Regions from separate parts of the Homo sapiens genome. Here regions 1, 3 and 4 are each linked to region 2. Evidence: fine-mapped expression QTL. A gene starts in region 2. Each other region holds a variant in brackets. All regions are shown on one strand. Distances are from middle to middle.

Evidence for each region. PIP is the estimated chance that this variant, and not a neighbour inherited with it, causes the effect.
Region 1: its variant is the best candidate, but not a certain one, in a credible set for the expression of SLC26A8 in monocytes (TOPMed, PIP 0.72).
Region 3: its variant is the best candidate, but not a certain one, in a credible set for the expression of SLC26A8 in whole blood (TOPMed, PIP 0.54).
Region 4: its variant is the best candidate, but not a certain one, in a credible set for the expression of SLC26A8 in whole blood (INTERVAL, PIP 0.54).

The regions. Positions count from the first base shown.
Region 1 is chr6:36,070,198-36,075,197 of GRCh38, reverse strand. MAPK14 (mitogen-activated protein kinase 14) reads right to left here. Exons shown (of 12, transcript NM_139012.3): 4 at 2,214-2,325; 5 at 1,478-1,507; 6 at 1,102-1,149. Among named protein-coding and RNA genes, the nearest start is that of MAPK14, 45 kb to the right of the region's middle. The variant T/C (reference allele first, on the strand shown) is at 2,501.
Region 2 is chr6:36,020,998-36,027,143 of GRCh38, reverse strand. It overlaps SLC26A8 (solute carrier family 26 member 8), which reads left to right and starts at 2,503. Exons shown (of 20, transcript NM_052961.4): 1 at 2,503-2,640. RefSeq lists enhancers at 2,057-2,556, 2,557-3,058.
Region 3 is chr6:36,169,298-36,175,575 of GRCh38, reverse strand. The region is part of intron 2 of BRPF3-AS1 (BRPF3 antisense RNA 1); the gene reads left to right. Among named protein-coding and RNA genes, the nearest start is that of BRPF3, 24 kb to the left of the region's middle. The variant TGTC/C (reference allele first, on the strand shown) is at 2,856.
Region 4 is chr6:35,992,717-35,998,994 of GRCh38, reverse strand. SLC26A8 (solute carrier family 26 member 8) reads left to right here. Exons shown (of 20, transcript NM_052961.4): 5 at 1,076-1,257. It overlaps LOC105375034 (a long non-coding RNA gene), which reads right to left and starts at 1,137. Exons shown (of 4, transcript XR_926746.3): 1 at 1,032-1,137. RefSeq lists an enhancer at 5,382-5,895. The variant A/G (reference allele first, on the strand shown) is at 3,794.

The sequences.
Region 1 (5,000 bases), 49 kb before region 2:
CTGGGGTGCAGTGGCACTATCTCGGCGCACTGCAAGCTCTGCCTCCCAGGTTCACGCCATTCTCCTGCCTCAGCCTCTCAAGTAGCTGGGACTCCAGGTGCCCGCCACCATGCCCAACTAAATTTTTGTATTTTTAGTGGAGATGAGGTTTCACCGTGTTGGCCAAGATGGTCTCTATCTCCTGACCTCATAATCCACCCGCCTTGGCCTCCCAAAGTGCTGGGATTACAGGCATGAGCCACCACGCCTGGCCATAAACTTTTTAAAGTAATCCAAATGTTCTTGGCTGGGAGCAATGGCTCACACCTGCAATCCCAGCACTTTGAGAGGCCGAGGCAGGTGGATCACGAGGTCAGGAGATCGACACCATCCTAGCCAACATGGTGAAATCCCATCTCTACTAAAAATACAAAAATTAGCCGGGTGTGATGGCGTGCACCTGTAGTCCCAGCTACTCGGGAGGCTGAGGCAGGAGAATCGCTTGAACCCGGGAGGCAGAGGTTGCAGTGAGCCAAGATCACACCACTGCACTCTAGACTGGGCAACAGAGTGAGACTGCATCCCAAAAAAAAGGAAAAAAAAAGAAATGGTCTTTATCATAAATGTGAGTTAAGTGGATATATAATTTTGCCAAATGAAATGGTGCATTCTAATGTACAGACATTTTTTCAAGTTAAAAAAATGAAATGGAACAAAAGTTCTAGAGCTGCTTGCTATTTAGAAACAATTAATTCACTTATTTTTTATTTGAATTATTTTGAGTGAGTGGGTTTCTGCCATTTCTCCTCTTAGAAATGTATTTAATCTAGTTATCACCTCTTTGGGCCTACTTACTTGATATTTGACTATTATCCTCCTTTATTATGACTAATATATCAAATTTATAATTTAACTTTATGTTAAAATAAAAACAAGTGATGCCACTTTCAATGTCACTTAGCTTACTCAGAAATGGTTTAAATTTCAAAGTCTGATAATAAAAATAATACGAATTTCAGATAGTCATGGCTCACAAAGCTACTCCCTAAGAAAGTCTGCCTGCTTAGTCAAACATATAATCTCAAAGTAAAGCAAACAATGAATACTGTCTCTTCATTTTACCTTCAGCTCACAGTCTTCATTCACAGCTAGATTACTAGGTTTTAGGTCCTAGGAAGCAAATACAGGGAAGACAGGATCAACTTTATGATGCATGATCAATTCTCCCCCTACAGGTAATAATGAGGATCCAGACATAAAAGACTTCATCCAGCTATCAAAAGACAATCTCCATCCTACAGTCAATATCCAGTCCAAGTTAGCCTTACATAGAAAAAAACTACACATCTTCTTTCTTTAATCAGCTTAAACCTACAGTAAAGTTGCAATCAATCAACATTTCAATGGCTAAAGTTTAGATTAGGATCTTGGCTAAATGCCATTCTTCCACTCTCACCCCACTTCCCCAAAATAATGTAATCAAAGTCACAATACATACCCTGTGAATTATGTCAGCTGAATGTATATACTGCAAAAGAGAAAAAAGTCAAAGTTACCTCCAACCTTCTATTGTCATATTATATAACATATTTGCTGCACATTTTCATGAATCAGTAAGAACTGCTAGTGTTAATAGTAAGATTAGAAATCAGCATAAGTAACTATCAGTATTGTGTACATTTACCATTACTATAATTTCCACAGCCATTGACTCCACTCAGTTGAGCTTTTAATCTATTTTCTGGTTGGCACTCTGGAGCTCAATAAGGACTCAAAGCAGCTAAATATCAAAGATGGGTTTAATTTTAAAACACTGTTTATCTGCCCCTCCAACAAATAAATTAGTCTTTCTTGAGGATTTTTTGAAAATCTCAACATTACGCTGACCAGATATTAGATTACATCAATAAATTATTGTTTAGATGTAAGAATGAAGAGTCCTTATCTTTCAGATATGCAAACTGAAGTATCTATGGATGGTATTATATAATGTCTAGACTTGCTTTAAAATAATCCAGGGCTTGGGAAATACAAAAGAAACATGATTGGCCATATGTCGGTAACTGTTGTCACTGAGTGAACATGGCAGTTTACTGTACTATATGACCTTTACCTGTGATTTTATGTGTTTGAATTTTCCATTAGAAAAGTTGTTTACTTGTTTGTTTAAGCCCTAAAAGGAGGGGAGAAAGGGAGAATTCATTTTAAAAAATTATTACTTGTATTATCTGTACCTTTAGACCTCGGAGAATTTGGTAGATAAGGAACTGAACATGGTCATCTGTAAGCTTCTGACATTTCACAATGTTGTTCAGATCTGCCCCCATGAGATGGGTCACCAGATACCTAGAAATTAGTGAAAAGTTACATAACAATCTAGAACCCCTAAGAAAGTTCTTATCTTCAGAAGACTTTTATAAGTTTTTTGGTTTTTTTGGTTTTTGTTTTTGTTTTTGAAATGGAGTCTCGCTCTACTGCCAGGCTGGAGTGCAGTGGCGCAATCTCAGCTCACTACAACCTC[T/C]GCCTCCCAGGTTCACGCCATTCTCCTGCCTCAGCCTCCCGAGTTGCTGGGACTCCAGGTGCCCACCACCATGCCCGGCTAATCTTTGTATTTTTAGTGGAGACGAGGTTTCACCGTGTTGGCCAAGATGGTCTTGATCTCCTGACCTCATGATCCCCCCGCCTCAGCCTCCCAAAGTGCTGGGATTACAAGCGTGAGCCACCGCACCTGGCCCGACTTCTAAGTTTTTAAGGGAAGGCTACCCTTCCCTTAAAATGGTAGCTGTACCACGATGACAGCTAAAAGCTAACAACTACTCATTTTTTGGGGGGAAGGGCACCTCATTACCTCATTTTCAACATCGCTATTCTTTTACTTTTCTTTTTTTTAGAGACAGGGTCATGCTCTGTCATGCAGTGGAGCAATCATAGTAATTCACTGCAACCTCAAACTCCTGGGCTCAAGTGATCCTCCTACCTCAGCCTTCCGAGTAGCTAGGACTAAAGGTGTGCACCACCACGCACAGCTAATTTTTTTAAATTTTCCTGTAGAGATGGGGTCTCACTATGTTGCTCAGGCTGGGCTCTAACTCTTGGTCTCAGGTGATCCTCCCAATTTAGCCTCCCAACATTACTATTCTAACTTTAACTACCTGCCATCTGTTCTAAACATTTACATACTTATTCCTACTTGACATATCTTTTTCCAGGTTATCTCAAGAAAAAAGAAACCAGGCCAAGCTTTGTGGCTCACACCTATAATCTTAGCACTTTGGGAGGCTGAGGCAGGAGTGTGAGATCAGCCTGGGTAACACAGGGAAACCCCATCTCTACAAAAAATAAAAGAGAAAAGAAAACAAAAACAGCAAAGGTAGGGATTAGAAAGATACATGTGTCAGTATCAGTTTTCTTACAAATGTTATTCTTGCATGACAAATATATAGTATAACTTACTGCATGGCTATAATTAAGTATCTTGTAGTTTTAAATCCACCGCTACATTTTCACCTCATTATAAGTCTTCCACATTACAGGTTCTAAAATAGGAGTATTTTTTTTATTTTCCAACTGTAATTCTTTTTCAGGAATGACTAGTGAAAGGATTTTGTTCATTGACAATATTCCTGCATTTACCTTAAAGGAAGGAGGAACATGTTTTATCTGGAGGCAAGATGAGGCATTCCAGAATTTCTCCTCACAGGTGTGGTGCTGGTTATTAATCCCATCTTTATGTGGTAAGATTAGGGAATGATTACATTCAAGTCCAACAGGTTCACCACACATATTCTAGACACAATGCCTTAACCCACTCATTACTGTATTACACAGCTATGGAAACATAGAAAGTAGATCGGTTCTAAAAAGGCTGATTTTTTTTTTTTTTCTTGAGACAGAGCCTTGCTCTGTCGCCCAGGCTGGAGTGCAGTGGCACAAGCTCGGCTCACTGCAACCTCCACCTCCTGGGATTAAGCGATTCTCGTGCCTCAGCCTCCCGAGTAGCTGGGATTACAGGTACTCGCCACCATGCCTGGCTAATTTTTGTATTTTTAGTAGAGGCGGGGTTTCATCATGTTGGCCAGGCTGGTCTCGAACTCCTGATCTCAAGTGATCCACCCACCATGGCCTCCCAAAGTGCTGGGATTACAGGAGTGAGCTACCGTGCCTGGCTAAGAGGCTGAATTTTTAAAAATAAGTGTAAGTTTTATTTACTGTCTAAGAATCATTCCTATTCCTGAGATTGGGTAATAATATATATCAGCTGAGCTATAAAGAATGCTGATTTCATTTCTATTTTCATTTTTTTATGAATTTTGGAGGGAAGAAAGCAGGTCAGTAATTTAGATCTATTATTAATATATTATAAGAATAAACGTGTGTGTGTGTGACCTCTCTTTATATACCTACACACACAACTAATACACTATATTTATTACTTTCTGTCCTCCAAGAGGAATGGAATTTTTTTCTCTGTCATAATTTCCTGGTAGGGCTGCCATGGTCAGTTCTCAATTTCATGAAGATCAACAGGACTTAACCTAGTTGCAACCTTAAGATGTTAGCATTTCATATTTTTAAAACTTGCATGTTTATACGGCCTTGAGGAAAGAGTAGACTCTAAATGTAATTAATAAGTAAATGAGACTGAAACGTTTTAAGAAATGTTCCAATCTCAACACAACATAACCAAAGGCACTAACTAGCACTTATTCTGTGTCCAGCACTGCAGCAAGCAGTTTATTATGTCCATGTACTCATTATGTCTCATGTACTCTTCCCAATAACTCTGTGAGATAATGTCCATTAGCGTTCCCATTTCATTGACAAGGAAATAGAGACAGAATAAGGATAAGCCATCTACTCAAGGTCAAAAAGAGTAGTAATGTCAGGAGTTGGATCTAAAACTAACTGACCCCACAGACCATGATCTTAATCACAGCACATATTCTTCCAACAATTCTTTCAGCTGATACAAAATTTACATCAAGGGAATGACCTTTTTAAAACTCTTTAAACGTCACAAT
Region 2 (6,146 bases):
TGCGGTGAGCCGAGATCGTGCCATTACACTCCAGCCTGGGCAACAAGAGCGAAACTCCGTCTCAAAAGAAAGAAAGAAAGAAAGAGACAGGTTCCGGCCAGAAGGCTGTTGCATTCCCATCTGCTCAAGGACATATGGGTTACTCTTTGAGATGCTGACGAAATATGTCCCAAAGGCAAATGTTAACCCTGCATCAAAGCTGAGGCTTTCCAGGGGCTGGGCTCAGTGGCTCACACCTGTTATCCCAGCACTTTGGGAGGCCGAGGCGGGTGGATCACGAGGTCAAGCGATAGAGACCATCCTGGCCAACATGGTGAAACCTCGTCTCTACTAAAAAAAATACAAAAATTAGCTGGGCGTGGTGGCACGACCCTGTAGTCCCAGCTTCTCGGGAGGCTGAGGCAGGAGAATTGCATGAATCCAGGAGGCGGAGGTTGCAGTGAGCTAAAATCGCGCCACTGCACTCCAGCCTGGCGTCAGAGGGAGACTCCGTCTCAAAAACAAAAACAAAAACAAAAACAAACCGAAGCTTTACATTAAAACTCTCCCAGTTAAACTTACATGCAGAAAAATCACCCTGGGAGTTTAAGATGCAAGTTCCCAGAACTCACAGGGAGTCTAATTGGGTAGGTCAGAGGAGGTCTTGATCAAGAGCATGCATTTTTATAATACATCTTAGGTGATTCTGATTCAGGAAAGTCTCTGATATCTCCCTTTGAGAAGCATTTAAAAAACCGTTACACTGAAGATTTGAAACTGACTCCTATCCTGAAGAGCCATCAGTGAAGAGGATTTTAAGCATTTAACTCAGGCCTCTTCGAGTAAGGAGAATAGGGCAGGAGTCTCATCGAATTTAGGCAAGTCAACTGACCTTTCCTGAACCTCAGTTCCAGCTTCTACGAGAGAATTCCTGCCCTGCATTCCCGACTAACAGAGTCATTTGTAAAAACCAAACAAGATAAATGTGAATGGGCAAGGCATTCTAACCCCATGCCTACATCCATTATCAACCTATGCCTATGCTAAAGCTTGTTACAATGAGCAGAAGAATCAGATCCTGTCTCATTCTCTTAGTTTCTTGTATTAGAAATAACTAGATCCAAGCCAGGACATTTCTCAACATTTCCCGTGATTATTCTATTTTGTGTCATACACACCTTGGAGGGCTCAGACTTTGCATATCTTGTCCCAACATCTAGCACAATGTCTAGAACATAAAACATGTGTCATAAATATTTGTTGAAAAAATTATGAACAGTGACCATGATTTCAAGTGGTACAGTATCCTCAGTCCTCTTCAAGGAAAGCAATATAAAACCAAAAAACAGATAGTCATGGGTGATTCATGGAAAGCTGTTTTGGATCCAATGTAGCTTAGGCTGGAATTCTCTTATCTACAAAAACATGTTGCTTGAGAATGTTCCAAACTAGGGAGGATAGGAAGCTTTCTAAGAAGTAATGGAGGGTGAAGGGGAAGTAAGAGCAAAAACATGATTGTGAAGACATGAGGGATGGGGTTGGGGGGATCAAGGGAATGAGGGAATGGTTACAAAGGGTGAGGAGGAAGCTTGGAAGTAGGAATCCTCAGAAATGCACATTTTTATCCTACAAATTGGGATGATGAGGTGAGGGTGAATGAAAGGGTAAAGATAAAGTAAGCAGTATATTCATACACTCATTCAACCAATGTGTATTAAATGCCTACTAGGTGTCAAACACTTGCAGTTTAAAAGTGATTAAAAACTACAGTTGCTGCCGGTGTGGAGCTTACAATCAATGGGAGGGCAATCATTCAACAAAAATTAATTGAATACTTCCTATGTCCACCACACTGCTGTAGGCACTGATAATAAAACAGTTAATGAAAGGGATAAAAGTCCTTGCCCTCATAGGGGTAAGATGATTTACAAAAAGGAATACATAAAGTGCATTATAAGGTAGACATTAACACAGTCATCAAACAAACAAGTGTAAAACTGTAACTGGGCCAAGCAGGAATACAAGGTGGAGTGAGAGACAGTGCTAGGGACAGGGATAGGGTGGGAGGAGGGTAAAGGGAGTGAGTGCAGATGGCATGTCTGCATCCAGAGCAGATCTGGGCAGGAGGGTGTCATTCAGTGGGGAGAGCCGGGTTTGTGGGGCAGACAGCCTATGGTTGGAGACCTGGGTGACCCTCCTAGCCTCCATTTCTTTTTACCTCTTCTGACCTGAGGAAGGCTTAAGTCTTCCGGAGACGTTAGTGAATTACCGTCTGTGCAGTACACATGTGACACATGTGCACTGCTGTATGTTCAGGACACGAGGCCTGGCACCAAATAGGCCCTCGATCAAGAATAGCAAAACCTCGGAGAGAGAAGGAGCCTTGGTATACAGGTTTACCAAATACCAAGGGGATCCCACGACTCAGGTATGAGGAGGGCGACCCAGGTACCACTTTCCTGGCTCCCTAGCCCAGCTGCTCATGCTCCTCTTCCTCGTCCCCTCCCCCACTCTCATCTCCTCAGCCCGCCCGGAACGCCCGCGGGCTAGGCCACAACGGCTCGGGAACCGCCGCCGGTATCCGCGTCCGCAGCGCCGCCAGCCAGGCGAGAGCCGTGTGGGATCCCAGCGCCCGCACTCCCGCCCCCGCCAAGGAGCCAGGTGAGCCGCTGCTGGGAGACGCCTGGGCGCCGGGGGCTGCAGGTCCCAGGGCGGGGGCTGCGTCCGTCACCGGCAGGTACCCAGGTATGCCGCAGAGCCAGGCACGCCGTGGGCACTCAGTCAGTATCTGTGGAATGAATGAATGATGGTCGTCCCTGGGAGCTTATCTCTGAGGTATTGTCTCTACTTTCAAAGGCCGTGTGGATGGCAATGACAAGAGACAACAGTGTGTGCGTTTTGCAAGCTGCATCCTTTCAAATTCTCCTGTCTATATTGTCAAAAGCCCCAGAACTGACGTGCTACCTGCACCCCACCGCCTACCCCATCCATTTCCTCCTGAGGCCTGACTGCCCGGCCGTTCCTCTTCCTTTCAGACCCCACTGCTTTTGTTAATTTTGTTCCCTGTGACTGAATCCCCACCCCCACCTCCTTGCCCCTTTCTTTTCATGTCAAATGCCGTTGATGTGTCAGGGGCCCCGTGAAGCCTTCTCCAGCACCCCCACCCCAATAATGAGCATCTCTCCAACACACCATGTTACTCTATCCACATTGCATGGAAGGTGGTTGTCCTATGTTTATGTGTCCAATGGTCATCCGCTTAAGGACTGTCATCTTACTAGTCATCCCTAGCCACTAGCCAGAGTGACTAAAGGATCTAAAGGCCAGGCTCTTTGCTTATACCTTTTCTGTATTCCCAATACATTCTCCATAAAAACCTAGGTAGTAACAGGTGTAGGGTTGTTTCTGATGGAATTACAAATGCTTATTTTGAAAATTCGGAAGTAAATTTTGCCTTTCCGTGATTATAGAAAACATAAGAAAGTTAACAATATCAGGGGGAAGATATTCCTGCAACTAAACTAGCTTTCAAGATTTCATATTATTTGGGTCAATAGCTAAAAAATTGGATTGTATTTAAACTTTTTATTCTTGACTTTTTTTTTTTTTTTTTTTTTTGAGACAGAGTCTTGCTCTGTCGCCCAGGCTGGAATGCAGTGGTTTGATCTCGGTTCACTGCAACCTCTGCCTCCTAGGTTCAAGCGATTCTCCTGCCTCACCCTCCTGAGTAGCCAGGACTACAGGCACGCCATCATGCTCGGCTAATTTTTGTATTTTTATTAGAGACGGGGTTTCACCATGTTGGCCAGGCTGGTCTTGAACTCCTGACCTCAGCTGATCCAACCGCCTTGGCCTTCCAAAGTGCTGGGATTACAGGCATGAGCCACTGAGCCATGTCTGGCCTATTCTTTACTTTTAAAGCACTCTGAACACAGATAATGTAAATAATTAGATAAATGGATGGATGGATGGATGGATGGATGGATGGATGGATGGATGGATAAGGGTACTATGGAGGGTGAAAGAGCTAGGCCAAAAGTGCTTGTATTTTAACAGGGCCCCCAAATTTAGCACTGAAAGGCTCATGAAAGATAATCCACTATATTTATAGTGGTAGTCATACTTTAATTTTTATCAGAATCACCTGGACAGCTTCTTTGCTTTTTTTCTACCTAGCAAGACCTACTGAATCAGAATCTCTGGGGGCCCAGCAGTCTGGACAGCTTCTTAAAACAGACTGATGGCCCCCAGAGTTTCTGATTCAGTAGGTCTTGCTAAGTGGGGCCTACTCAACAGTAGGAGTTTCTGGTCATTGCATCTTCTTGGGAAGTGTCCTGCTAGTACATGAAAATGAGCCACTAGGATTTCTATGAAATCAAGAAAGACATAATGGAGCTGGAGAAATTCCAAAGAAAATTACTTAAAAAAAATAATAAGGAAACCATGCGTTTACCCTTGCTGCTGTTAGCCAGACATTTGATGGAGTTCCTTAAAGACAACTTTCCACCTGCTCCTCCTAGCCATCCTCACTGTGGTCGTAGGAGTTTATGACTTGATAACATCTCCTAGACTAATATTAATGGTCTCCAATTGGCTGTTTTGCCTCAGTCTCTCCTATCTCCACTGTCCAACAACTTTTTGTGATGATGGAAATTTTTTATATCTGCATATCTGCACTGTCCAGTAAGGTAACCACTAGCCATATGTGGCTGTTGAGCACTTGAAATCTAGCTAGTATAATTGAGGATCTGAATTTTTTATTTTAAGTTTAAATAGCCACATGTAGCCAGTGGCTACCATACTGGACAACTCAGCTCTAGAACATAACACTGGCACATTTCATCTTCCCAAAATGCATCTCTGTGCGTATTACTACTTCTGCTGAAAGACTTTAAATAGGCCAGGCGCAGTGGCTCACGCCTGTAATCCCAGCAATTTGGGAGGCCGAGGCGGGAGGATCACCTGAGGTAGGGAATTCAAGACCAGCCTGGCCAACATGGCGAAACCCTGTCTCCACCAAAAATACAAAAATTAGCCAGATGTGGTGGCACATGCCTGTAATCCCAGCTACTCAGGAGGCAAGGCAGGAGAATCGCTTGAACCTGGGAGGTGGAGGTTGCAGTGAGCTAAGATCGCGCCACTGAACTCCAGCCTGGGTGACAGAGCTGTACTCCATCTCCAAAAAAATAAAAAATAGGCCGGGCGCGGTGGCTCACGCGTGTAATCCCAGCACTTTGGGAGGCCGAGGGAGGCAGATCACGAGGTCAGGAGATCAAGACCATCCTGGCTAACACCGTGAAACCCTGTGAGCTGAGATCACGCCACTGCACTCCAGCCTGGGCGACAGAGCGAGACTCTATATCAAAAAATAAAATAAAATAATATACATATATATTTATATGTATACGTAAACATATGTAAAGTAATTGACAACATTTAAAAGCCAGAAGATTCCACATAAAAATCTGGCATTATGGCTTCTCCTGGAAAAGATCAGATCTAAGCCATTCCGGGCCCCACATTGACCGATGGCAAAAATGGCTAGAGCTAAGCAGCTTCTGCTGCCTTTGCCAGCCCCACTGTTCCCACCACTCCTTGACGGTCATATTTTGCCTATTTTACACCAATCCTCCTTTAATGTCACTTTCAGAACAAAATGCTGGGTTCTAGACTCTCGATGTGACCCAGGATATCAGTTTTGTCATTAGCAGACTAATTAGGCTTGTTTAGGTTGCTGGGAACAAAGAGACTACTCATGGAAGTACATTGGACAATTATACGGGGAAAGTAAGGAAGATTGGGTCTGTATTCCTATGGGTGGGGAAAGAAAGGTGGGGGGGGATTCCTTACATTTCAATATACAGTTCTACCTTTTTTTCTTTTTGTAAGAGACATGAGGCACTAATTATCTTAAGTAATATATTGTAAAATACCTCTCCCATCCTCTTCTGTATTCCCCAGTCACCTCACTGGTTTAGAGAATTTGTGATCTTTAGTTCATGGTTGTTATACAGCATATTACTTCTACCCAATGCTTTGAGGGTAAAAATACAATATATAATTATGGCCCAATTACTTACATTTTCTAAAATCTTGGTTTTACACCTGTAAAATGAAAGAAATAGTAGTACTGGTATTGTTGTGGAAATTTAATGACATAACTCGTG
Region 3 (6,278 bases), 150 kb before region 2:
AATTTTATTTAACTTATATATCAATCTGGGGAGTATTGACATTTTTAGAAGTGTGTTTTTAAATTTATAAATACATGGAGAGTTCCTTTCTTTTCTTTCCTTCCTTCCTTTCTTTCTTTCTTTCTTCTTTCCCTTCCTCCCTTCCTTCCTTCCTTCTTTCTTTCCTTCTTTCTTTCTTTCTTTTCTTTCTTTTCTTTCTTTCCTATGGAGTCTCGCTGTGTTGCCCAGGCTGGAGTGCAGTGGCACGATCTCGGCTCACTGCAACCTCCGCCTCCCAGGTTCAAGTAATTCTCATGTCTCAGCCTCCCACGTAGCTGGGATTACAGGCACTTGCCACCACGCCTGGCTAATTTTTGTATTTTTAGTAGAGACAGGGTTTCACCATGTTGGCAAGGCTGGTCTTGAACTCCTGACCTCAGGTGATTCGCCCACCTCAGCCTCCCAAAGTGCTGGGATTACAGGTGTGAGCCAGCACAGACAGCCTTTTTCTTGATTATTAACATCTCATTTAATTCTAGTGTAGTCAGAGAATGCTATTATTATAGCAGTTATTTGAAATTTGCTGACACTTTATGGACTAGTATTTAATTTTTATAAATGTTCCACATGTGCTTGAAAAGAATGAATATTCCCTAATTTTTAGATGTTCTATTGTGTTCTATTGTGTGATCAAAAACTAATCCTGCCAGCCTGGCCAACATAGTGAAACCCTGTCTCTACCAAAAAATATAAAAATTAGCTAAGCATGGTGGCACATGCCTGTAGTCCAGCTACTGGGGAGGCTGAGGTGGAAGAATCACTGGAACCCAGGAGGTAGAGATTGCAGTGAGCCGAGATCGCACCATGGCACTCCAGCCTAGGCGACAGAGTGAGACCCTACCTCCAAAAATAAAACAAAACAAATTAATTGTGTTATTCAAATCTTTTTTATTTTTTTAACCAATTTTTTTGTGTACTTATAACCCCCTATTTTTAAAATTATATAACAAACTTCTTCCTTCCTAATAATGTTTTTGTCTTAAAATCCATTTTCTCTAATATTAATATAACTACCTCAGCTTTCTTTTGTTAGTATTTGTCTGGATTAGTCTTTTTCATCTTTTTGCTTTCAACCTGTTGACTTATGTTTTAAGTGAGCCTATTGTACAGTATATTAATGGACTTTGTTTTTATTTCAAATTTAAGTATCTCTGTCCTAAATGGCACTTTTAGGTCATTAACTTTATTGTAATTATGATATATTTGGCCTTATTTCCATCACCTTGCTTTGTGCTTTGTCCCCTTTTCATTATATTCCCCCCACCACACGCATATACACATTTCTTGTCTCATTTTAGATTTTTGCCAATCTTTCTTTCCTTCCTTCCTTCCCTCTCTCCCTCCCTCCCTCCCTCCCTCCCTCCCTCCTTCCCCCCCATTCTTCCTTTCTTTTCTTTCTTTTGCATATATCTTCTCTCTATTGGTTTGGAAATTATACATTCTAATTTTATTATTTCGTGGTTACCATTAAAATTTCACCATGCATACTTTAAAATGTCTTGAGCTAATCAAATCTGTAAGTCTTCTGAACAACATAGTTTCCCTCTGAGGTTCTGAATCTTCAGATTCAATCAATTGCTGATTTAAAATATTTGAAAAAAATTTGGCCAGGTGCGGTGGCTCATGCCTGTAATCCCAGCACTTTGTGAGGCTGATCACCTGAGGTCAGTTCAAGACCAGCCTGGCCAACATGGTGAAACTCCGTTTCTACTAAAAATACAAAAATAGCCAGGCGTGGTGGCAGGCACTGGTAATCCGAGCTACTTGGGAGACTGAGGCACAAGAATCGCTTGAACCCAGGAGGCAGATGTTGCAGTGAGCCAAGATTGCACCACTGCACTCCAGCCTGGGCAACAGAGTGAGACCCTGTTAAAAAAGAAAATTAGGCCTCAGTAAACCTGATATTTTTAAAAAGAAAAAAAGAAATTGTATAATTAACCACTTTTGCACACCAAATATAAATGGTACAAGTGGGGATGAGGAATTTTAAAATTCATTAAAATGTATAAATATATACCCAACGAGGAAAGAAATATGGGTAGAGGTGACAGTCCCTATTCTGTAATTGCTTATGGGGCTGTGGTTGACATGTATAAATTTTCCTCTCTGTAATTTGTGTCATGTTCCCTTTGCCTTCACAAAAGAACTCAGTAAGTTGGAGTTTCTTACCAAACTCACCTCATAAGAATTACTTCCTTGGTAAATCTGTCTTCAGGGATATAGCAGTCTTCCATTAACTTTTTCCGTTGGATATGGTTGTTTAAGACCTGCTCCAGAATAGCAGACCTGAGTTCTATTAAGATTTTCCTATCCCGAGGTCAAGGCTATAGTGAGCCATGATAGTGCCACTGCACTCCAGCCTGGGTGAGAGAGTGAGACTCTATATCAAAATTTTTAAGATTTCCACATCCCCACTTTGAAGCAGCAGCCTTCTTTCCCATGATGATCAAGATTATTCAGGACCAGTCATCCCAGTCAACATCATGACCTTCTTTATTTTTTTTTTTGCCTGTGGTATAAGAGCCCAAAATGACCAGCAGTGGAAACATTGTTTTGTCTTCTTATAGAAGCAGTTATCTCTTGGATCCCCAAATGCCAAGTCAGCAGAGCCCCAAGTCATGGAGAGGAGAAGCAATAATTTGATGAGTAACAAACACATTAGACTTAATCATGAAAGATACTATCCCATTTCCACCCCATTGTTTCCATACCTGTACATTCTAATTACAGGAGAAGCCACACATACGCATACATTGGTTCATGATTCAGAACATATAATATATCCTGCATGCCAGTGCCCCAACCTCATGAGGTGT[TGTC/C]CCAATTGGAGGCACAGCTGGCTCTTCAGCAGGGCATTCTGCTATTCTCTAAGGCAAGCTGCCAGACTAGGCATGGTGGGAGCATGTGTTACTTATATTCAGACAGCTTATTGTATCTTCAGCTATGGCTGGAGCCTCATTCTGTATTTTATACCTCTTATAGCTCATGTTAAAATGTTGCATAGAATGCCCAACTTCATAGCTAGGTAGCTGAGACAACTCACAGTGGGCAGTTTTGATCTTAGCACTTGGACTCCCCCAGATCCCCAGAGCAAGGCTAGAGCAGTTTTCCAAAATGAAAATAATCACTTGCTTATGAGGCAGCGGCTTTGCTCCATTACTTTAGGGGCCTCCACTGCAATTCCTATTGAGGACTGTCACAGATTTCCTATCGCATTCACAATTGCCACTCATTTATGGAACACCATTGGATCCACGGGCTCATAAATGCTAAGGGAAGGAGCTTCCTATGTACTTCTGCATTATTTCAAGAAACTTCTGGCACCTCAACTTAGTGTGTTCCATTGTCAAGTGAACACCAGGTGGTTCTGGGTTTTGGTTAACCAGCTGAGCAAATTGTTAGAACTATTCCCTGCTGCTAGTATAATGAGTCCAAAATCATAAGGACATCCGCATCAGTAAATTCAGTCCCAAACTAAAACTATGTTCCTCCTCATTTGGTGGGCAGACACAGAATCCAGTTCTGCTATAAATGGGCAATATCCCTATATTTATTTTTGTGTGTAAAGCTTTTCCTAGGTTTGACTTGAACTTATATCTCTAAAAGCTTACTGGGATTTGTCTTTAGTTAGAGAGGATTGTCTTCCTCTTACAAGGAAAGGGGATAGATATGTTTTCGAACAAGGGAGAGACAGCTTCATCAGATAAGGGAGGAGAGAGAGACTTCTTCAGTGGGTAATGAAAGTGGAAGTGAATGTTGAGGCTAAACACAGGAGGGTAGTTGAAATAACAGCCCCTTCTACCCAAGTCCTAGCACAGACAGCACAGAATATTTTTCTAAAAAGAATAGAACACAAAGTCTGGAGGCAGCTAGTGTGATGTCGGCACCTCACCTAAAGCCCTCCTCATTCTGGAATTTGAGAACTTCATTGTAAAGTAAGATTCCTGCACTTTACCCAAAGCAATATAGGCCTCCCATGTACAGGGTCCTCAGTGAGATGTCTTCTTTTCTATTTTCACAATATGAGTAGAAAGCCAAAGATCACCAGACATTGAGAAAGGTCTATAGCATACAACTGGAAAATCAAAATTAAAAAAAAAAAGAAAGAAAAAAATCTGACACCAGAGACAATTCAGGAAATAGGTTAGAAACAACAAATAATTCATATTCTCAAAGATACAGCTTTTTTTAATTTAAAAAAGAATTATAATATTGTGAAACTAACAAAGAACAAGAAATAATTCTTGATAATTAAAAACATGATTGCTGATTTTAGGAAGATGATGGTAGCATAGTTTTTTTAAAGCAGCTTTATTGAGGTATACTTGGTATAAAATCATCTGCACATGTTTAAAGTATATAATTTATAAGCTTTGACATATGTATATACCCATGAAACCATCACAATCAAGATTATGAACATACAGTCACCTCCAAAAGCTTGCTCCAAAAGTTTGTAATTCCTTTTTTTTTTTTATTCCTCTGCCTCCCTGCCTGGTAACCAATGATATTCAAATGAAATGATATAGTATTACTATTTTGTCTGGCTTATTTCACTGAGTATAATTACTTTGAGATTCATCCATATCATGACATGTGTCAGTAGTTAATTCCTTTTCATCGCTTAGTAGTATTCCATTGTACGGTTATACCACAGTTTATGCATTCACCTGTGGATGCACATTTTGATTGTTTTCATTTTTTGACCATTACAAATAAAGCTGCTATGAATGTTTGAGAACAAGTCTTTATGGGCATATGTTTCCTTTCTCTTGGATAAATTCCTAGCAGTGGAATGGCTGAATCATATGGCAGGTTTATGCTCAATTTTTTTTTTCTTTAAGAAACTTCCAAATTGTTTTCCAAAGCAGTTTTACCATTTTTACATTCCCATCAACAGTGCATGAGAGTTCTAACTTTTCTACATCCTCACCAATACTTGGTATGGACAGTATTACAAAAAACTTTTTGGGACAGGGTATCACTCTGTTGCCTAGGCTGGATTGCAGTGGTGCGATTATGACTCACTGCAGCCTGGACACCTAGGCTCAAGTGATCCTCTGCCTCAGCCTCCTGAATAGCTGGGACTACATGCACCACCATGCCTGGCTAATTAAAAAAATTATTTTTTATAAAGACAGGGTCTCACTATGTTGCCCAAAGCGGTCTCCAATTCCTGGGCTCAAGCAGTCCTCCCTCCTTGGCTTCCCAAAGTGCTAGGATTATAGAGGTGAGCCATTACATCCGGGTACTATTTTTAATGGTTTAAAGCAACTTTATTGAGTTGTTATATAACTTACATACCACAAAATCCACCCATTTAAAATATACAGTTCAGTGACTTTTTAGCATCACAGAGTTGAGCAATCAACCTGACTATCTAATTTTAGAATTTTAGAAAAGGCCTCATCCCCATTAGCACTCACTTCCTACTCTGCCCTCTCCCTGACTCCATCTCCCATTCTAGGCAATCTCTAATCTGCTTTCTGTCTCTAGATCTGCCTATTCTGATTTCATGTAAGCTGCATCATACAATATGTGGTCTTTTGTGCCTGGCTTCTCTCATGTAGCATACTGTTTTCAAGGCTCATCCATGTTATTGCATGTATCAATACTTCATTCCCGTTTTAAACATTTTTTAAATTTTGAAATAATTATAGATTCACAGAAAATTGCAAAGATAGTACAGAGAGGTCTGGTGTACCCTTCATCCAGTTTCCCCCAGTGGTTACATCTTACATACTTACAGTACAGTGTCAAAACCAGGAATTTGACATTGGTAAAAAATAAAATGGTGTGCACCATTTTATCACATGTATAGATTCATATAACCACCACTGCACTCAACATACAGAACTATTCTATCACCATAACGCTCTTCCTCATTACTGCCCTGCTCAACATCCCTAAGCCCTAGCAACACTAATCTGATTTTCATCTCTATAGTTTTGTCATTTCAAGAAGGTTATATAAATGGAATCACACAATGTGTGAGATTGGCATAATGAATTTCCCCTAGTGTTCAAATAAAGACAGAATAGATAGTGAAACCAAAACCATGTAGATGATACTTTTAAGAAAACTAGGTGACAAACCCAGAAAATATCAGGGAGTGGGCCAGAACAACAGCCCCAAACCTACACAGTATCAGCACCTGTGTGAGAGGAAGCAGAGGAAAGATGGTGTGCCTGGGGGACCTGAGAAAATGAGAAACACAAAATGTTCCCAAAAAAGTATTA
Region 4 (6,278 bases), 28 kb after region 2:
TGAACCCGGGAGGTGGAGGTTGCAGTGAGCCAAGATCACACCATTGCACTCCAGCCTGGGCAACAAGAGCGAAACTCCGTCTCAAAATAAATAAATAAATAATAAAAATAAAGAATAGCTCATGTCTTTATTCAATCTGCTATGTGTTGATTTTACATTTGAACACCAATAAAACAATTTTATTCCTATATTTCCAAGTTTCTGAGGAACCTCACAATCATTTCCAAATACTTATAATAAGGGTTGTTAGAGATTTATTTATGTTAGGTAAATTTAAAGTTAAGATATATCTTTGCTCTCTTATGTGTTATGACAATATGAGGACTAAACAAAACAATGTTTGAAATAAGTTTAATTTACCTCAGTGTCAGTATTATTTTTCTTCCTATTGTTATTGATTGCTTCATTATCTTTTCTTTTCTTTTCTTTTTTTTTTTTTGAGATGGAGTTTCGCTCTTGTTGCCCAGGCTGGAGTGCAATCGTGCCATCTCGACTCACTGCAACCTCTGCCTCCTGGCTTCAAGTGATTCTCCTGTCTCAGCCTCCTGAGTAGGTGGGATTACAGGCATGCACCACCATGCCCAGCTAATTTTGTATTTTTGGTAGAGACGGGGTTTCTCCATGTTGGTCAGGCTCGTCTCAAACTCCTGATCTCAGGTGATCCACCTGCCTCAGCCTCCCAAAGTGCTAGGATTACAGGCGTGAGCCACCATGCCCGGTGATTGCTTTCTTTTCTAATATTTTCACTGCCATCTCACTTTTAACCTTCTCTAAGAGCAGACACAGCAGCTGAGCCTGACACCCATTTCAGTCAACTTCTCTATTCCACTCAACATACCCATAACACAAAGAGACTAAATACCTAAACCACCACCATCTAAATCCCATGAGTTGGTCACAATATGTGGAGACACAGTTCTCTTTTTTGATTTTTCTTACTTCTCAATGGCCACTTTCAAATGAGAAAAGTTATTCAGTTGAAGGACAATCCAGAATTCAACCATACCTTGCTTTTGTCAATATCAGTTTACCTGGACTTGAAACTTCACCTTCTACCTAACATCTTCTTCCACAGGTTCCTTCTTCCTGGTGAGTGCTCTGCTGATCAACGTTCTGAAAGTGAGCCCATTCAACAACGGTCAACTGGTCATGGGATCTTTCGTCAAGAATGAGTTTTCGGCCCCCTCCTACCTTATGGGCTATAATAAATCCTTGAGTGTGGTGGCAACCACAACTTTTCTGACTGGGATTATTCAGGTAGGATCTGAGTCTTCAAATCCCTGAAAAGGAACTGAATAAAGGGGCTATAAACAGACCCCTTCCTTATACTGCTCCTGTGATCCACTGTGATATACCTGGAACTTCAGTGATTTATTTTTTGAAAAATCAGAGGCTGTGTGAATAGCGTGTCTCCTTAGTGACAAAACTTCTCTCTCCTCAGAAATCATCTACCACTGATTTAGGATGAGATATTAAACATTCTCTTCAGTCCTTTCACCTCTAAGACAAAGGGTCTAAGGGATGATGGTCCAGAGCAGTGGTCCCCAACCTTTTTGAAACCGGGGACCAGTTGCAAAAGAAGACAATTTTTCCACAAATGGCAGGTCGGGGCCAGGGAGGGTGGTGGTTTTGGGATGAAACTGTTCCACCTCAGATGACCTGGCATTTGATTCTCATAAGGAGCATGCAACCTAGATTCCTCGCATGTGCAGTTCACAATAGGGTTTGTGCTTCCCTGAGAATCTAATGCTGTGGCTGATCTGACAGAAGGTGGAGAGCTCAGGCAGTGATGCTTGCTTGCCTGCTGCTCACCTCCTGCTGTGCAGCACCCGGTTCCTAACAGGCCACAAACCAGTACCAGTACTGGTCGGTGGCCCCAGGGGTCTGGGGACTCTTAGTCCAGAGCTCCACTCCTGATCTTACCTTTTCAAAAATTGCTTCATATTCTTTTTTTTTTTTTAGATGGAGTTTTGCTCTTGTTGCCCAGGCTGTAGTGCAATGGGACAATCGTGGCTCACTGCAATCTCCGCCTCCCAGGTTCAAGTGATTCTCCTGCCTCAGCCTCCCAAGTAGCTGGGATTACAGGTGCATGCCACCACACCCAGCACATTTTTATATTTTTAGTAGAGAAGGGGTTTCACCATGTTAGCCAGGCTGGTCTTGAACTCCTGACCTCGGGTGATCCACCCACCTCGGCCTCCCAAACTGTTGGGATTATAGGTGTGAGCCACTGCACCCAGCCAAAAGTTGCTTTATATTCTATCAACAAGAATGGACTCATTTAGCTGGGCATGGTAGCATGTGCCTGTAGTCCCAGTTACTCAGGAGGCTGAGGTGGGAGGATCACTTGAGCCCAGGAGGTTGAGGCTGCAGTAAGCTGTGATCATGCCACTGCACTCCAGCCTGGGTGGCACAGCGAGACCCTGTCTCCAAAATAATAATAATAATAAAAATAATGATGGCCTCACAGGCTCACACACTATCTTTGGGTTAGTAAGCTTTAGAGCCAGATCTGGAATCCTTTTTCTGCATTGACAAGGACCACAGCTAAAGGACAATAATATGAATGACTCATTAAAATCTCAAAACTTATTTTGGCTCTGTCTTTAATTTCCTCTGAGAGTCTATCACCAAAAGTTCATCTACTGAACTAGTCACATCCTCCAGGCTTATTTCTCTTTTTTCTCAACTAACCCAGTCTCTAGTTGATTTTCACTGATCTCCCCTGGGACTGTCTTTCACTAAGTAAAGATTTATTGGGTACCTACAAAGGCAGGCTATCAAAGTGGGCAGACTCCAGCCCTGACACTATGAGCTGTGTGAATTTTGGTAAATTATTTTACCTTGGTGGGCCTCAGTTTCCTCATGTATAAAGCAGGAATAATATTTGTTTTGCAGGGTTCTTAGGAGGATTTAGTGAAAAAAATGCATGCAAAGTATTTAGCCTAGAGCTTGTCACATAGTAAGCATCAATAAGTTATAATTAGTGGGCACAGAGAAATGAATTTGGTACTTTAACAGAGACCAAAAATTTAAAAAACAATATATAGTTTCCTGTGGTTAAAAAGTTTAATCTTGTGGGATAAGACAAAATACACAAGCAACCTTTTAATTATCAAGGGGCCTCATGCATGCTTTCTCTTCTCCTTCAAGCCTCAGCTTTTTTCATCTAAAAAAGGAAGAGGGCTGGGCATGGTGGCTCACATCTGTAATCCCAGCACTTTGGGAGACTGAAGCAGGAGGATTGCTTGGGGCCAGGAGTTTGAGACCAGCCTGGGCAACATAGGCAAACTCTGTCTCTACAAAACAAAATAAAAAAAAAAAATAGCTGGGTGTGGTGGTGCACGCCTGTAGCACACTACTATGGTCCTTATTTTAAGAAAACAAGGGCATAGAGAGGTTAAGAAAATTGCCCAAGGTCACATAGCTAAGACACCAAACTGGGATTCAGTTTTAGGGTTGTCTGATTGTAGAATCTGTGCTCTAGGAAATCTTAAGCATAAAATAATATTCATATAAGAGTTTAGTGCCAAAAGAACATGAAGTTAAAAAATAACCTCTAGTTGAGTCGAAGTTATCTGGGAAGGAAACAACTATTTATTGAGCCCTCCCTTTCATTCATTCAACATTTAGTACTGGCTTCCTATAAGAATGGCAGATAGGTTTCATCTCACAGGCCAACCCTGACTGATTAACAGTGGCTGCCTAGAATATTATGTTAACACTGAACGTGATGCCATATTACAGTGGGCAAGAAAGAGTTCTAAGGCAATTGCAGATTTTTGCCATTTAC[A/G]AGATGGAAGGCAGGGATGGTATGAAGAAGAGTAACATATATTTGCATATATGAGTGATACATATTTGTCACTATTTTCACATCTGAGCTAGGTATTTTACATGTGTGATGAAATTTAATCTATTCAAAACACTTTACATTGAATATTATTCACATTTTATAGATGAGGAAACTGAGGTTCAAAGAGTTAACTTGCCCACACTTACACAGCCAATGAGTGGCTGGGCCAGGACTGAAGCCAGATTCTCCAAGCCCAGGAACCATGCTTTTTTCACCACACTCCTTAAAGGAGAGGAATTTTACTGAGCTCTTGAAAGATGATGCAGGCCAGCCACAGTGGCTCACGCCTGTAATTCCGGCACTTTGGGAGACCAAAGCGGGTGGATCACTTGAGGTCAGGAGTTCAAGACCAGCCTGGCCAACTTGGCGAAACCCTGTCTCTACTTAAAAATACAAAAATTAGCCAGGCGTGGTGCTGGGCACCTGTAATCCCAGCTACTCGGGAGGCTGAGGTGGGAGAATCACCTGAACCTGGGAGGCACAGGTTGCAGTGAGCCAAGATTGTACCACTGCACTCCAGCCTGGGTGACAGAGCAAGACTCCGTCTCAAAAAAAAAAAAAAAAGAGATGATGCACATGGATTGGCAGAGATGGAAAAAAGAGGGGCTCATGCATAAGCACAGAAGTAGGAGTCAGCCAGTCACGCAAGAAATAGGAAGCAGACTGGCCTGACTAGAGTAAAATAGAACATTGGGCGGCAATGACAGGAGATTAAGGGAGAGACAGTTGGCAGGGCGCAGTGGCTCACGCCTGTAATCCCAGCACTTTGAGAGGCCGAGGCGGGCGGATCACAAGGTCAGGAGATCGAGACCATCCTGGCTAACACGGTGAAACCCTGTCTCTACTAAAAATACAAAAAATTAGCCGGGCTTGGTGGCGGGCGCCTGTAGTCCCAGCTACTCGGGAGACTGAGGCAGGAGAATGGCGTGAACCTGGGAGGTGGAGATTGCAGTGAGTCGAGATCACGCCACTGCACTCCAGCCTGGGCGACAGAGCAAGACTCCGTCTCAAAAAAAAAAAAAAAAGAAAAGAAAAAAAAAGGGAGACACAGTGCCGGGCTGATTGAAAGCTTTGAAACAAAAACCTGTTAAAGCAAAATGATTTATTGTTCCAAATTTGTTTGTTTTCTGAGAGCTTTTAGTGGAGTGGAGAGTGAAGTGATGATTGTAAGCTTTAAGACTTCTGTTTTGCTCCTTTCCACCCTGCTTACTGAAAAGTCTTCATTGGGCTGTGCCAGTTTTCTTAACCTACCCTCTTTTTGTTTTTTATTTTTCTTGTTGTAGAGACAAAGTGTCGCCATGTTGCCCAGGCTCATCTCAAATTCCTGAGCTCAAGCGACCCTCCCACTTGAGCCTCCCAAAGTGCTGAGATTACAGGCATGAGCCACCACACCCAACCTAATTGTGGTTTTTATTATAAAAGACGAACATCTCAAATAGTAAAAAAGTGTATAAATTATCAAATATTGTCCCCAACATCTAACCCCATTCCCCAAAGGTAATTCCTGTTAATCATTTGAGGTCTATCCTTTTAGATCCTGTGTGTATAAAATTTTATTATATACTATATAACATAAATTTTACATATGCATATTGACATGTAAAATACCTTTTTTATTTTCCTTCAGGATATGCATAATCCTGAAAACATAAATAAATTCAATTTAATTATTCTCAGTAAAGATAAGAGTCAAAGGCCAAGAAGTTTGAGCTCGATCCCACTGTTTTGAAATTCTCTTCTCCTTTGTGAAAAGCTGCATTCCTCAGAGGAATGTTAACATCTCCTGAAAAGGGCTATCAAAGCTTCTAATGAAAGAGGTTTAAAAAGGCAAAGGCAGGCCAGGCACAGTGCGTTCATGCCTGTAATCCCAGGGTTTTGGGAGGCCAAAACAGGAGAATCACTTGAGGTCAGGAGTTCGAGACCAGCCTAGGTAATATAGCAAGACCCCCCCCTCCAATCTCTATCAAAAAAAAAAAAAAAAAAAATGCCCAGTGTGAGCATCTGTAGTCCCAGCTATTTGGGAAGTTGAAGCAGAGAATCCCTTGTGCCCAGGAGTTTGAGGTTACAGTGAGCTATGATTGCACCACTGCACTCCGGCCTGGGCAACAGAGTGAGATCCTGTCTCATAAATAAATAAATAGGCAAAGGCTTGTTCTGATCACCTTGTCCCTGTTTTCCCCAAGTCAACCTAGAGAGCAGTAGATTCTAGGGCAAGAACTTAAGTGAGCTGACTGCTCACAAAGAAGGAAAGGAGTAGTGTGAGCTAGCACTTGTTGGGAGCCTCTGATCAACATACAAGGACCCGTGTTATCAACTTCTGTTCATTAGGGAAAGAGAGTTACAAGAGTTACCAAAGGGGCCTATCTTAACTTTTCTATTGGAAACCCTTCTTTTCCTGGAGAGTGCCATTGGTGCCATTGCTGGA